Regions from separate parts of the Homo sapiens genome. Here region 1 is linked to region 2. The links come from fine-mapping of genetic effects on gene expression. Tissue or cell type: whole blood. Region 2 holds a variant in brackets; the other region holds the start of a gene. All regions are shown on one strand. Distances are from middle to middle.

Region 1 (8,000 bases), 480 kb before region 2:
AGGGACCAGCTTTAGTTCCCCTTTCATGGTGCTACTGACGACAGTGTAACCTCAGGGTTCAGCCCCTGGGCTCTTTGCTTTCCATGAGTAAGGAAGCAAGAATGCTGCCTCCCTCCACCCCTTCCACAGCCTGCTGGGGGCCTGCAGCTCCAGCAATCCCCCTATCATGTTACATGCCCAGAAGCGGCTTTCAGTGCCTGCCGTTGCCAGCTGGCTTCACCCTTCACACTAGACACTCAGGAAGAAGGGGTCCTTAGACTCAAGGAAGCTATGTGACCAGCATTCCGTACCTCCTTCCCAGAACTGTTGAAGAGTCCGTCTGCCCCATGTGTAGGAGGGAAAGAGGCGCTTCAGGCCACACAGGGACACAGACAAGAGGGAGAGGGAGTAAGCATAGGCAATGTGGGAGTGAACAGCACATGCAGCTGTGGGTCCAGCTGCCTGATTGCTGGGAACTGCTGGCCAAGGATACAGCATCCCCATTGGCCTGGAATCCTGGAATGGACTCCAGCCTGACTTGGTCTTCTGAGTCAATCCAGCCACAGTCAAAAAGGGGAGGCAGGCACTCGATGTAGGAATTACAGTTTACACAGTTCCTCTTCCTATCTCTAGCATCCAGAACTGCGCCCAGCACACAGTAGGTCCATGATAAATATGGAATGAATGAATACTTTTACATGCAAGCATGATCTCAGCCAATCTGCAGAGTGAGGCACAGGCTGGACAGGTGGATCACCTGAGGTCAGGGGTTCAAGACCAGCCTGGACAACATGGTGAAACCCCATCTCTACTAAAAATATAAAATTAGACCGGCATGGTGGCAGACACCTGTAATCCCAGCTACTTGGGAGGCTGAGGCAGGAGAATTGCTTGAACCCAGAAGGTGGAGGGTGCAGAGAGCCAAGATTGTACCATTGCACTCCAGCCTGGGTGACAAGAGCGAGACTCCACGTCAAAAAAAAAAAAAAAAAAAAAAAGAGTTAAGCAACTTGCCTAAGATCATTCAACTTTGATGTAGCAGACTGAAGGCTAGGCACTGTGGTCTTTCTATAGTGCCATGCTGAGCATTCTTCATATACAACACAGAATTGCATCCTATGACTCCATGGGAACTTCCTTTTGGGTCAGAAAATAGTCCTTAGGGGCTGAGTTTCCTGGACTTAGTCTCAGGGCCAGGTTTGGATACCCTGCCCCTCCCTGCGCATCTGGCATCTGCCTTCCCTTTTATGAGAATCTCCTGGAAAGGGCTTCTCCAGCAGTCTGTGTTGCCACATCTGACTCAGGAGCTCTGTACCCTTGAGACACAGAGGCAGGGGTTGGTGGCTTCACCCTAGGAGTCAGGAAAAGAATGAAATCATACACATTCAGTTCCTTATTCTCTTACCCTCAACAGAAATTTCAGACAGCCTAGACCACAGAGACAGTTCTTGGAATTCAGGCAAACAACTAATTTGTATTACAGCGGGTGCAACTTAAGAGCTCAGAGTCCATAGTCCGAGCAGTCTTTCTGGAAGGAGGTCTCCAAAGTCAGGAGGAGGGCTCCCCTGAGCTGGATCATCTTAGCTCACTGGCCCCTCCCTTCACAGCGTTCTGTCTTTTATGGAGACAGTGAGGTATAGCGCATAGGAACAAGGATCAGAAGACGCTGGGTTTTAGTGCTGGCTTTGCTGCTCATCAACTGTGTATCTTCTCTCCACTTCATTTTCCATATCTGCAAAATGGGAACAACAATACCAGTCTATATCATAAGGCAGTTATGAGTTTAAAGAGAAATGGTTTACATTAATGTGCCTTGAAGCACAAGACAGAAATACAATATAAAAAATATGGCTGGGGCCGGGCACGGTGGCTCACGCCTGTAATCCCAGCACTTTGGGAGGCCGAGGTGGGCGGATCACAAGGTCAGGAGATCGAGACCATCCTGGCTAACACGGTGAAACCCCATCTCTACTAAAAATACAAAAAATTAGCCGGGTGTGGTGGCAGGCGCCTGTAGTCCCAGCTAGTCGGTAGGCTGAGGCAGGAGAATGGCGTGAACCCGGGAGGCGGAGCTTGCAGTGAGCCGAGATTGTGCCACTGCACTCCAGCCTGGGTGACAGACCGAGACTCCGTCTCAAAAAAAAAAAAAAAAAAATATGGCTGGGCGTGGTGGCTCATGCCTGTAATCCCAGCACTTTGGAAGGATGAGGTGGGAGGACCCCTTGAACCCAGAAGCCCAGCAAAACCTTGTCTTTAAAAAAAAAAAAGAACTGTGCACAAAGATTTCAGAGAGTGCTAAAGATTAGCGCATGGATAAGGAAGTTCTGTGAAGAGTTGAAGTGCTAGGTGAAGAGGTGGCACGGGGGAGGAGGGGGCGGAAGGGGAGAAAGGGTGTCACGCTTCATAACGGTCTCCAAACCTCTTTGTCCAGGAGGAAATGAAGTCATCTGCTCTCAGCAATCAGCATGACAGCCTCCAGCCAAGTAATCTGGAGTCATGAGAGCTGCTAGGGGAGCAACATGAATCATGACGGTCCCTGGGAATTTCCTGATAACTAACCTGGGAGTTTCGGGGTAAGTCCTCAGGCTGCAGCATCTCTGTTTATGTTCTGGTCACGTTTATTTACAATTAATGGGTTCTCAAATCCAAACAAAACTGACCACAGTCTTCTAGAGGAAGTAGCAAGGTTGGCTCTGAAGCCTATAGCATCGCTGACTCAGTCTGTCCCCTGGAAGGCTGGCAGCTCAGCAAGCACAGAAGTCTCTCCAGAAGACAGTGGGTCACCTGCCTCCCAAAAGCTGAAAGGCTAACTTGTACTTTCCCCAGCAGGCAGCTGGCACCCTGAGCCCTCGGCTGGGGCAGAGCAAAGGAGCCTTCCTCCTTCCTACCTTCCTGGCACTCTCCCTGCCTTCCTTCTGTCACTCTCAGGTGGACCCAGACCCAAGGTCCAGATTTGCAAGGCAGGAAAATGCTGCAGGCCTAGGCTGGGAAAGGGCCCAAAGCCGCTAGTGGATTGCTGGGACTCAGCCTCCTCCTTCCCACTAAGAGAGCGAGTCCTACTGGGTTCAAAATGACCCCAAGCCCTGGTTCCTGACACTAGGGGAAAGAGATGGGGGTGACAGAATCACAGAATCCCTGCTATGTTCCTCCAAGTGTGCCCAGAGATGCGTGTGTGTGTGTGTGTGTATACACAAATGTCTGCTTATCCTCAGGCAGGAAGGGTGGATGCAGTCATTTACACATGGTCTGTTTTTCTGGAGGACAATTTTATTTGATAAACAATTGTTTCTATCTGAATAGAATAAACAAGGCTCTATGATGAAGTAAAACACTAAATACACATGCATTAAAAAATGCATAATTATCTTTTTGGAATGGGCTATACAGAGATGTGCTTTTTAAAATGTTAAGAGTGTAAAAGGACAAACAGTGAAAAATAAATCTTCCTCTTATTTTGTCCTCCAGTCTCCCAATTCCTCTACTCAGAGGTGAGAACAGAACTTCCACACCCTCCAGAACCTCCACAGTTAGAACTGTCTACATGTTTCCATTGTCTTTACTTTTATTCTTGCCTGCACAAATAAATGAATTGCTCATTATGGAAACTTCCCAAAAGACCCGTTAACACTTCAATAGGAAGCACCAACAGTTTATGCCCTAGGACTTTGTTCCCACAATCCTGTAACATCATATCACGACACCTAACCCAATCCTTATCAAGCCCTGTCAAAAACGGACTTTAAACCAAGCTGCAAATTTTCAGTAATCTGGCCTTGCCTTTCCCCCTCTGATAGCACCATCAAACAAACCCCCTTACTGCCGAAAGCAATAAGCCCGGCTTTGTTCCATCCACTGGTTGTGTTGGTGATATCTGGGGACTGCCACTGAACAGACGCACAGAGGGAGCCCCTACAGGCAGGGGTTTTTCTGTCTGTGCTTCTGGGAGAGTATGTCTCGTACATTTGTCGCGTTGATGAAGACTTCACAGCTCCATCAGCTGCGGGCAAGGGGGTCTGAGGCAGTCTTAGGCAAGTTGGGGCCCAGCGGGGAGAAGTTGCAGAAGAACTGATTAGAGGACCCCAGGAGGCTTCAGAGCTGGGCGAGGTAGAGAGTCTCCTGTGCGCCTTCTCTCCTCTCTGCAATTCGGGGACTCCTTGCACTGGGGCAGGCCCCCGGCCAGGTGCATGGGAGGAAGCACGGAGAATTTACAAGCCTCTCGATTCCTCAGTCCAGACGCTGTTGGGTCCCCTCCGCTGGAGATCGCGCTTCCCCCAAATCTTTGTGAGCGTTGCGGAAGCACGCGGGGTCCGGGTCGCTGAGCGCTGCAAGACAGGGGAGGGAGCCGGGCGGGAGAGGGAGGGGCGGCGCCGGGGCGGGCCCTGATATAGAGCAGGCGCCGCGGGTCGCAGCACAGTGCGGAGACCGCAGCCCCGGAGCCCGGGCCAGGGTCCACCTGTCCCCGCAGCGCCGGCTCGCGCCCTCCTGCCGCAGCCACCGGTGAGTGCCGCGGTCCTGAGATCCCCGGGCCGGATGCGCGGCGGCCCCAGCTCCCGAGCGTCTGCCTCCCCCGCCCTGGGCTGCCCGGGCTCCCTGGGCTCCCCGGCGGCTGCACGGAGTCAAGGCGCCCCGTCCCGGGCGTCCCCCGCGGGTGCCGATCCAGGCTGCCCGGAGTCCGGAGCCCAGAGAGGAGAGAGACAGCTGGGGAGCCTGGTCACCGCGGGCATCTCCCCTGCGCTGCAGTCGCCCGCCTGGCCTGCCTTCCCGTTCCTCCGCCTCTTGCCCTGACTTCTCCTTCCTTTGCAGAGCCGCCGTCTAGCGCCCCGACCTCGCCACCATGAGAGCCCTGCTGGCGCGCCTGCTTCTCTGCGTCCTGGTCGTGAGCGACTCCAAAGTGAGTGCGCTCTTGCTTTGACTGATGCTGCCCAAGGACCTCTGATCAGCACCAGGGGAGAGGAGGGGCTGCTCAGGGAGCTGGGGTCCTCCGGATTCCATCCACAGCAGGGCCAGACTCTCCCCAGGAAATGGGACAGGGTGGCAGCGGAGGCTTGAGAACCACGGGGGTTGGCACTGGCTGGCAAGGGAGGAAGAGGCCGCCGGGACTGCCCCAGCCTGCGGGCATCTGGTAGATGAAGCTTGCTTGGGTCAATCCATTTCTCCTGGCTGGAAACCCATGGTCTTCCATTTGAGAACTAGATACGAACAGGGTGAGGCGAGAGGGAGAGGGAAGAGTGGGTTTTGGGATTGGGGCCAGTTTACCCTCACCCTGGAGTCCCTGGAGCATGGGACCTTTGATGAAGCCTCCTCCCGAATCTCTTCCAGGGCAGCAATGAACTTCATCAAGTTCCATGTGAGTATCCACCCCTACAACAGTTGGCTGCACAGACAAGTTGGGAAGGCTTCAGGGGACATCCCCTCCCTGCCCTCTGCTGCAGGGCTGCGCCACCCCTTACCACTTCCACTCCCCCTCGCTTACCCCACCTTTGTTCTCTCCAGCGAACTGTGACTGTCTAAATGGAGGAACATGTGTGTCCAACAAGTACTTCTCCAACATTCACTGGTGCAACTGCCCAAAGAAATTCGGAGGGCAGCACTGTGAAATAGGTATGGGGATCTCCACTGCAACTGGGAGAGAAATTTGGGGACAGGGAGGGATGGGTGGGAGGCAAGAGCAGGCAGGAGTTAGGAGCTGGAGGTAGGGTGGGTGACATCTTCATCCCTATGTGACAAGCATAAACACACACACACGCTCACGAAACAGTGGCCACACAAATGTGAGGTGGGGTTGGAAGGAGACCCTGTCCAGTCTTCTGGCAGGTCTGAAACGACATCTTTAAAATGTCCGTTGGCAGCCGGGCATGGTGGCTCACGCTTGTAATCCCAGCATTTTGAGAGGTCAAGGTGAGTGGATCATTTGAGGTCAGGAGTTCAAGACCAGCCTGGACAACATGGTGTAACCCTGCCTCTACTAAAAATGCAAAAATCAGCCTGGCATGGTAGTGGATGCCTGTAGTCCCAGCTACTTGGGAGGCTGAGGCAGGAGAATTGCTTGAACCTGGGAGGCAGAGATCTCAGTGAGCTGAGATCACACCACTGCACTCCAACTGGGCGACAGAGCAAGACTCCATCTCAAAAAAAAAAAATAAAAGTTAGTTGGAATGTTCTTCTCTTTCTCATATTCTCTCATCCTCCTGTCCCCTTGTAGATAAGTCAAAAACCTGCTATGAGGGGAATGGTCACTTTTACCGAGGAAAGGCCAGCACTGACACCATGGGCCGGCCCTGCCTGCCCTGGAACTCTGCCACTGTCCTTCAGCAAACGTACCATGCCCACAGATCTGATGCTCTTCAGCTGGGCCTGGGGAAACATAATTACTGCAGGTGAGGTGGGGGCAACAAGGACCAAAAGCCCTCCCTACAGCTTCCCAGAAACCTTGTTACCATCCCCTTCTCCCAGAGGGCTGGCCATAGCACAAGAGAAGTGCGGCCTCTGGTTGAGTCTTCCCTGAGGGGAGGAGGCAGGGAAGGCCCTCTGGGTTGGAATGACATCCCCTATCTTTCTGTGTTGCCAGGAACCCAGACAACCGGAGGCGACCCTGGTGCTATGTGCAGGTGGGCCTAAAGCTGCTTGTCCAAGAGTGCATGGTGCATGACTGCGCAGATGGTGAGCATCACTGACCTGCTGATGACAGTGGGGTGGAAGGGGACAAACTTACATGTCCCCTTATTCCATCACAGGAGGACTGAGGAGGTGGGGGGTGCCCGAGAGGGATGCTTTCTCCTACCTGCCTCCCTAAGACATCCCTCTGTTTGTCCTCCAGGAAAAAAGCCCTCCTCTCCTCCAGAAGAATTAAAATTTCAGTGTGGCCAAAAGACTCTGAGGCCCCGCTTTAAGATTATTGGGGGAGAATTCACCACCATCGAGAACCAGCCCTGGTTTGCGGCCATCTACAGGAGGCACCGGGGGGGCTCTGTCACCTACGTGTGTGGAGGCAGCCTCATCAGCCCTTGCTGGGTGATCAGCGCCACACACTGCTTCATGTACGGCCCTGGGTTTCTCCTCTTCGACTCTTCTGCCCCACCCCAAGCACATCCCTTTCTCCTTCCCAGCAAAGTGTTCCGCCTCATTTCTCCCTCATCTGCCCCTGTCCATGCAGCCCATGGCCTTGGGGACAAGTCGTGCTTTGAGGCCTCTAGGGAGGGAAGGAAGAAGTGGCAGATTTCATGGGACTAAGCTGTTTGATGGGTATCTTCTCCCACAGTGATTACCCAAAGAAGGAGGACTACATCGTCTACCTGGGTCGCTCAAGGCTTAACTCCAACACGCAAGGGGAGATGAAGTTTGAGGTGGAAAACCTCATCCTACACAAGGACTACAGCGCTGACACGCTTGCTCACCACAACGACATTGGTGAGGGGGAACCCCGCGACTACTGTGGCCATAATGGCTTGGGGAGAGTGGGACCCAGGGAGAGACTGGAGCTGAGGTTGAAGCTGCCCGGTGGGGCAGGGGTGGGGCGAGGGACCTTGAAGCCTCGATATACATGACAAAGGGAGTGGCAGGGAAGAGTTCCATGAAGTCTGAGGGGCCTGGTGCTCCTCTGGAGAGACCCTGAATTTCCCCAACAAGTAGCCTCTTGCGAGTGGAAACAGCCCTGTGGGTATATGGCTTGGGCTGGGAAGGCCCTGTTTATATGAATTAGAAAAAGACACACCTTCCTTTGTGGGATGCAGCCTCTGTCTGTGCTAGGATATAGAACTTGGAGAATGGAGCCTTGGGATGGATTCCAGCCTAACTACCTCAGCTGGGAGTTTTTGCAGAAACGACCTGTACAGCTGTATGCAGTGGCTCTGGCCATCCAAGCCTTTTTCAACACCTGGAACAAAGCCCTTGGGGCATGGGGCAGGGGAGGTTTCCAGGTGATAAGCGACCAGCAGACCTCCCTGGATGACTGACCTAGGGATAGGCATAGCTACTTCCTCGGCACTTGGAGGGGACAGATGGGGACCGCCTAACCAGTAGTG
Region 2 (8,261 bases):
ATTCAGAGAACTCTTCTATTCCTATTCCTCTACTCCTTTCCCACTCACTCTCATAGAAAAGCATTTTTCATTTCTAGTTTATTCTTTCTGTGTTTCTTTTTATAAAATTAGCAAACACAAAATTATATATACATTCTAATATATGTATATAGTATAGTATCTATACTAAAAGAATATATATGGTTGAGTGAGGTGGCTTGCACCTATAGTCCCAACTACTCAGAAGACTGAGCTGGGAGGATCTGTTGAATTCAGGAGTTCGAGGCAAGAATATACACACACACACACACACACACACACACACACACACACACACACATTCTCTTTTATGTAATAAAAACCATAACATTAACTCTACCATCTTAACCATTTTTAAATGTACCAATTAGTATACGCATGTTGTTACATAGTCAACCTCTAGAAATTTTTCATCTTGCAACACTGAAACTCTGTACCCATTAAACTCTTAATTCTCTGACTTCCCTCCCTGACGTCCTTGGCAACCAACATTCTACTTATGTTTCTATGATTTTGACTACTTCAGATACTTCCTATGAATGGAATCATACAATATGTGTCTTTTTTGTGACAGACCTTATATAACTTAGCAAGTTCTTGATGTTCATCTATGTTGTAGCATGTGACAGGATTTCCTTCTTTTGTTTCTTTATCCTTTAATTGTTGATAGATGTCTGGGTTGCTTGTACTTCTTGGCTATCATGAATATTGCTGCAGTGAACATGGACATGCAAATATATCTTTGAGATCCTGCTTTGAATTCTTTTGACTGTATACCCAGAAGTGAGGTTGCTTGATTATATGTTAATTTAATTTTTAATATTTCTTTCAGGAACTTCCATACCATTTTAGTAGTGGCTGTACCATGTTACATTTCCACCAACACTGCACAAGGGTTCATTCACTTCTCCACATTTTGCCAGCATTTTTTGTTTTCTGTGTTTTCGGTAGTAACCATCCTGATCAGTGTGAAGTGATATCTCATTGTGGTTTTGATTTCCCTGATGATTACTGATGTTGAACATCTTTTCTTGTGCTTATTGGCCATTTATATATCATTTTTGGAGAAATGTCTATTCAAGTCCTTTGCCCATTTTAAGATCATGTTATTTGTATTTTTATTGTTCATTTAGAAGTTTGTTATATATTCTGGATATTAACCTTTCATTGGATATATGGTTTGGAAATAAGTTGCCTTTTCACTCTGTTGATTGCCTCCTTTGCCATGCAGAAGTTAAGCTTGATATAATCACATTTATCTATTTTTGCTTTTGTTGCCTGTGCTTTTGTTCCATATTTATGAAATCATTGCTAAATCCAATGTCCTGAAGCTGTCCCCCATATTTGAAAATAATATATATTATTAAGTTTTATTTTTTAAACAAAGCTTTTTACCTTTGAGACTTGATTTTTTTTTGAAGTTAACAAAATATCCTGGAAATTACTTTGTATAGAAGGAGTGTTCCACAGAGCTTTTCCTTTTTTTGTGTTGTTTTGCTGGGATTTTTGAATGGCTGTGTGGTATTCCATTGTGTGGATATATCATAATTTAATCGACTGATCTTCTACAGGTGGACTTCTAGTTTATTTCCAACATTTTGCCATTACAAATAACATCTCAATACTTATATATGTGTTGTTTTATATTGTGGATGAGTCTGTAGAAGTGGGATTGCTGGTCATTAAGCTGTTACTATGTCTCATTCTTACAGTTCTGTCTTTGTTACTTTTTCCTCTCCTCATCCTTTTACCTCTCAAATATGCATGTATTTCTTTTCTATTCCAAATATTTGAGAACAGATTTTATCAAAATCTATTTTGATATCTTTTGACTTTGTATGTAGATTATTTGTAGGTTATTTTGCTACCTGTAAGTCTTTGAAACTAAACAGGTGTTACCTATAGAATCACTATAGAATATTAGAACCCTCAGGGATTTGAGCTAATTATAAAAGGTAAAAAGTTCAAATCTGTGAAACATATGCATCTTACAAGAAATCCATTAAAGCTTATAATAATTACTTCAATGAAAAAATGAGATATTTGTAACTAGAACTGTAACACTATTTCTGAATTTTTAAAAGAATTTTTTTAGATATGAGCATGTTTTAGCTTAATTTATATATGAATTACTACAATAAGTATGACAATCATAGTAACAGCCACAGCTAATATATGTTGTTGACTATGTGCTGGGTACCATGCTCAGCAATGCAAGTACATTAATTTACATCATTTCAATTAGTCCTCAACGACCTTATGAGATGTATTTGTAATTATATCTCCACTTTAAACATGAGTGAAATGAGAAATGTTAAGAGATATGCTCTAACATGCTCTAACTCATGCAGCTAGTAAGTGGCAGAAGCAAGATTTGAACCCAGAGAGTCTTCAATCAAGATGGATTCTGCTCTTTTTATGACAATGCTAGACTTCTTATATTGGGACCCACTATTATTTTCCTATATCAGGCCAGCATTTGTCTTAAGGTCTGTATGATTTTAGCTGCTGAGTCCTTAACAACTTTATGTACTTTATTTCTCTCCCCAAAGCAGTATAAGATATTACATGGTTGTTATATTAAGTTTTTTTAATCGTAAGTGATAGCACAGAATTGAAATCCCATTCATAACAGCTACAGTTTCTCACAAAGCATTCTTGTCACATCACTATCTGTGGCAGAATATTAAACTATGTGTACCATTTTTTTGCCCCATTAAATTATTTATGTTCCTGTTTTACAGTGGATGATTCAACAGCCACACAAAGCAGCAACATTTTTTGGATGCATTGGGATAGATAAATTTGGGGAGATCCTGAAGAGAAAAGCTGCTGAAGCCCATGTGGATGCTCATTACTACGAGCAGAATGAGCAGCCAACAGGAACTTGTGCTGCATGCATCACTGGTGACAACAGGTCAGTGTAATTCCAAGGGAACCACTATACTAATTGGCTATTTTAACACTGGTAAAATATGAATTCCAATGTGAATTTGGAATTTTGACTTTATAATTCCTTTTAATGTTTGATAAATGCTTATTCCTTATATCAGTTTTCCTGTATTGTTTTTAAATTTACTTTTGTTAAACATGCAGTTGAATTCATGAGGCATAATGGAATAAAAGTTTGAGGTTATTTAGTCCAGTCTCTACTTTTTATAATTAGAATCAGAAAAGGCTGATAGCTTGCTCAATGCCTTGTAGCTTGCTCAACACCTTGTAGCTAATTTGTTGCAAAACTTGAATTAGAAACAATGTTCTTTTCACCATATCCTGAGGTTGGAATACGAGAGAGAGAGACAGAGAGACAGAGAGAGAGTGTGTGTGTGTATTTTATGTATATAAAATACAACATTACATTCAGGCTCGTAAGACTTAGTCATCTAAATGGTCATCTAAACCATTTCTGGCAAATAGTAATTCATTCATATTGAATAAACTCAGTCGTGGGTAGTATACCACTAACAAAACAACCAAGTATATTTCTATACACCCTTACTTATTAGAAAAGTATTCTTAATATGAACTTGAAATATCTCTCTCAGGCCCCTCCATATATTGGTTGGTTGTTCTTTTGTACCCACATGGAGATACTCCTTCAGTGTATTCATGCACTGCTAACGTTATTACCATATCAGCACAGGCTTTTTTCCCCTTTGCAAGGGAAAAACAAAATAACTGCCCTAGCTATTATATTGTTGGGATAAT[C/A]AAAGATGACCTCTTTTTAAATAGTGATTCACTAGAAATTTTGCATTACTTATAGTTGGAAATATGTAGTCTGTCCTCCTCCATTCCCTATCTCCTTTCTTTTCCCATCTTCTCTTCCTTTCTTTTTTTCCCTTTTCATCCTCCTTTATTTTCTTCCCCCTCTCCACCACGACCTTGCTCCATTTCTTCTATTTACCCACTTTATTGCTCACTACTTGACCTTCAGCAGAGGTATATTAAGGAATGGACTATTCTAGAGACTGGGGATCAATAAGCACAGTATTTACTAAATAACCAAAATACAATATTCAAAAATTATTAGGGTATGAAAGGCATTTTCAGATCTTTCCTTTAATTTTGTTTTTTATATACAGGAGAACTTTATGGTTTTAAGATTACAGTAAACATTGAAATATGGGATTCAGGGATTTTAAAAAAAAACAACTAAAAATGTTGAAATATGTTTGTTTAGACCTTTGCCCTTAGTTTTCCCAAGACCAGCCTTAATCTGTAGGTGCAAAGTTTTCCCATTAGTGAGAAGTAGGTCAGATTTTCTTCTGATATCACTTAGGCTACAGTAAAATTACTAAATTGTTTTAGTATGCTAAATTGCTGTCCTAAAGAACAGTTATGGTTGGGTGCAGTGGCTCACGCCTGTAATCCCAGCACTTTGGGAGGCCGAGTCAGGTGGATCACCTGAGGTCAGGAGTTCGAGACCAGCCTGGCCAACATGGTGAAACTCCGTCTCTACTAAAAATGTAAAAATTAGCCAGGTGTGCACCTGTAATCCCAGCTACTCGGGAGACGAAAGTAGGAGAATTGCTTGAACCTAGGAGGTGGAGGTTGCAGTGAGCCGAGATTGTGCTATTGCGCTCCAGCCTGGGCAACAGAGCAAGATTCTGTCTCAAAACCAAAGAGAGAGAGAGAACAGTTATGATAATATTAGATCTTCTGGATGTCAAAAACTTAACTTTTATACTAATTTTATGGTTATAGTGATATTGTTGAGATGATATGGGACTCAAAAATTGGGGAGAAATCTTCAGTATCTAAATCATTATCTAAATTCTGGAAGCTAATACAGTTGGATCAATTGTTTTGGATAGGTCCAGTAACCTTTGCTGCCACTATCAAAAACTCAGAAATTGGCCGGGTGTGGTGGTCACACCTTGTAATCCTAACACTTTAGGAGACCGAAGTAGGCTGATCACTCGAGCTCAGGAGTTTAAGGCCAGCCTGGCCAACATGGCGAAACTCCATCTCTACAAAAAATACAAAAATTAGCTGGGGATGGTGGCATGTACCTGTGGTCCCCGCTGCTTGGGAGGCTGAGGTGGAAGGATTGCTTGAGCCCAGGAGGTTGAGGCTGCAGTGGACTGGGGTCGTGCTGCCCACTGCACTTCAGTCTGGGCAAAAGAGTGAGCCCCTGTCTAAAAAACAAAAAACAAAACAAAAAATTTCAGAAATTGAAGTGTTTGGGTAATGCAGTATCTTTCTTGATCCAGGTTCTTCCTCTTCAAAGTCAGAATCAAATACGTTGGGATAATAAGAATACTCATATTTTTCTGGTCGGGCATGGCAGCTCATGCCTGTAATCCCAGCACTTTGGGAGGCCGAGGCGGGTGGATCATTTGAGGCCAGGAGTTTGAGACCAGCCTGGCCAACATGGTGAAACTCCACCTCTACTAAAAATACAAAAAAATTAGCCGAGCATCATGGCGGGCACTTGTAATCCCAGCTACTTGGGAGACTGAGGCAAGGAAATTGCTTGAACCCGGAGGCGGAGGTTGCAGTGAGCCAAGACGGAGCCATTGCTCTTCTCTAGCCTGGGCAACAAGAACGAAACTTCATCTGGAAAAAAAAAAAAAAGAATACTTTTATTTTTCTTTTGGAGAAACTGTAGTTTCCCATCAAAAAGTAGTTTTATTATCAGAATAGAGTTTAGTATCTGGTACCAGAAATGTTTGCTTTTATTTGGTAGCCATTTTGTCAAAATTTTCCTAAAGTCATAATTACTAAAATATTTTTATAAATTAGGTCTAAATTTTCTTAAGTTTGTAATATAGTTATTTTGTATATGAATATGTTGATGCATATTACTCTTTCTTTCCTTCATTTACTTGAACATAAACAGATGTATCCTTTAGTAGTAAATTGGCAGATGGATGAGTGGAAATACGTTTTGGAAGAGAATTGAGGTTTTTTTTTTTAACAGTGTAATCGAACATATTACCAAAGTCTGAAATGATAAGATTTTTTTTGTAAGCTATAACTGTTACAATTTAATTAGAAAAAGAGAAAAATTGGCAAGTAATTTTTTAAATTCTGGAGCAGTATGAGGAAGGAAAGTATTTTTATTTATAATGTAAATAATTATTGTATTTATTTTTAATTAAACAAGCCAAGTGACACTTGTAGCAGGATTTTATTTATTTATTTATTTATTTTTTAGAGATGTGGTTTTGCCTTGTTGCCTAGGCTGGAGTGCAGTGGCATGATCATAGCTCATTGCAGCCTCAAACTCCTGGGCTCAAGCAATCCTCCCACCTCAGCTTCCTGAGTCCCTAGGACTATAAGTGTGCACCACTACCCCCAGCTAATTTTTAAAATTATTTTGTAGAGATGGGATCTGGCTGTGTTGCCCAGGCTGACCTCAAACTCCTGGCATCAAGCAATCCTCCCACCTTGGCCTCTGAAAGAGCTGGGATTTCAGCTTTGAGCTACTGCACCCAACCTGCAGCAAGATTTTAAATGCAGTATCCTGCTTAGATATTCCATTTCTAAAATTGGACCAGTCAGGGGACTTTTCAACTATAGAAAACAATTCTAATTGATTTCAGCCCTTAGAATGTAATGGTTTACAAATTAATTCCTCTTAGCGAATATGGTCTACATTTATAAGTGTCTTTTACGAAATTAATTCCATATTTGGCTTTTAAAGGCTTCGATTAAATAGACAATTATAGTATGTTGATATTTATTTTTATAAAGATATTTTTCTACTTAAAAAATGTTTTTAGTTGCATAGATTTCTTTTTATATAATGAGTTAGCCTTATTTCTTAACTGCATTTTGAACTATTAAGGTGTAAAAAGTAGGTCCTATTTTACTATCAAAAGGCAACTTAAATGCCAATTTCTTTCTCAAAATACCAGGTGTTGTTTAGAACAAAAATTATCATAGATGCCTCAGAAAGTTCTCAAAACAAAATTATTATTTATATTTATTTAAAAATCAATAACATTAGTTTTGAAGAATTAATTAAAATGTAAATTTTAAACTTTGCAAAAAATATTGGTAATTATCTATTGAAACATATGCTAAGTTTGACTATAATATTACTTGCTTATTCTTTGGTTGTTTTAGGTCCCTCATAGCTAATCTTGCTGCTGCCAATTGTTATAAAAAGGAAAAACATCTTGATCTGGAGAAAAACTGGATGTTGGTAGAAAAAGCAAGAGTTTGTTATATAGCAGTAAGTACTTACCTAATTCAAATCTCTAGTACATATTTACATGATGGATTATAGTTGTTGTCTGATATATATTTTAAAATAATTATCTTTTATTTACCCTGCAAATTATTTATCTCTCTCAAAGCATATGTTAGATTCACTATTGTGAAAATAGAACAGAAATCATTATCTTTCTATGGGTAACATAATTTGTATTATTTATCTTCAGGTCTACCTATTTTTGGATACATTATGCATAGGTGCTTGCCAACCAAGCGCAGAATTCTATATTAAATCAGTTTCCAAATATATTTTAAAATAATTCTACAAACTTACATCTTACATTTGTAGGCAACTTGCATTGTGCAGAAAAATATTAGTAGTATAAATATTCACTGCAAATAGTTTGAGCTGAATTGCTTAAAAAACTTAATTGCTATTTATTCCATAGTAATTACCATGACACCTCTTAATTTAATATTTCAGAAACATTGATCGTGACAAATCTCTTAAATCTGGGAACAAGGGCAGGGTGTAATTTGAATTATTAAGTCTTCTGACACAAAAATAATTGGTTAAGAATTTATTTCTAAAATAGGATGGTACTAAAAATTCTGAATTAATCACCCCATGATTACCTTGTTTTTATTTAATATGTGTTAAATGTGGCTTTACACAAATAAGTAGATACCTATGAAAAAAGCATCTCGTATGCATGTAATATATGGTTTTGGTATAACAGCTGCTGCCATTTCATTACCTGAGCTCTGTGAAATAGCTGGTAAGATGTGTAAAAAATTGATTACCCTACTAGGAGGAACATGTTTATTGAAAATATAATTATTTCTTTCAGTCTAATGTTAATGTCTCCTACAGCATGTTTGTGTGCACTGTTCTAGGCTTTACAACATTGTTATTGATTCCTCTGTATACCAAATCCTATCCCTTTATAACTGTCAAATAAATGCTTACATTGAGAAGATTATATAATGGAAAGTTATGCTATCTTTTCTGCCAGTATGTGAGAAAAACATTTCAAGAATTAAATATTTTACCCCTTTATTATTTCCATTTCATTTTA

The links. PIP is the estimated chance that this variant, and not a neighbour inherited with it, causes the effect.
Region 1: PLAU starts here. The variant in region 2 is fine-mapped to the expression of PLAU in whole blood (INTERVAL, PIP above 0.99).

What each region holds. Positions count from the first base shown.
Region 1 is chr10:73,906,743-73,914,742 of GRCh38, forward strand. It overlaps PLAU (plasminogen activator, urokinase), which reads left to right and starts at 4,390. Exons shown (of 11, transcript NM_002658.6): 1 at 4,390-4,476; 2 at 4,783-4,870; 3 at 5,299-5,326; 4 at 5,473-5,580; 5 at 6,182-6,356; 6 at 6,548-6,639; 7 at 6,797-7,016; 8 at 7,238-7,386. The coding sequence starts at 4,814. C10orf55 (chromosome 10 putative open reading frame 55) reads right to left here. Exons shown (of 5, transcript NR_160938.1): 3 at 6,301-6,333; 4 at 5,458-5,542; 5 at 3,227-5,353. RefSeq lists enhancers at 1,866-3,065, 2,421-3,371, 2,621-2,670, 6,289-7,488, 7,099-7,652 and a silencer at 4,337-4,936.
Region 2 is chr10:74,391,379-74,399,639 of GRCh38, forward strand. ADK (adenosine kinase) reads left to right here. Exons shown (of 11, transcript NM_006721.4): 5 at 2,763-2,935; 6 at 7,093-7,201. Among named protein-coding and RNA genes, the nearest start is that of ADK-AS1, 130 kb to the right of the region's middle. The variant C/A (reference allele first, on the strand shown) is at 3,727.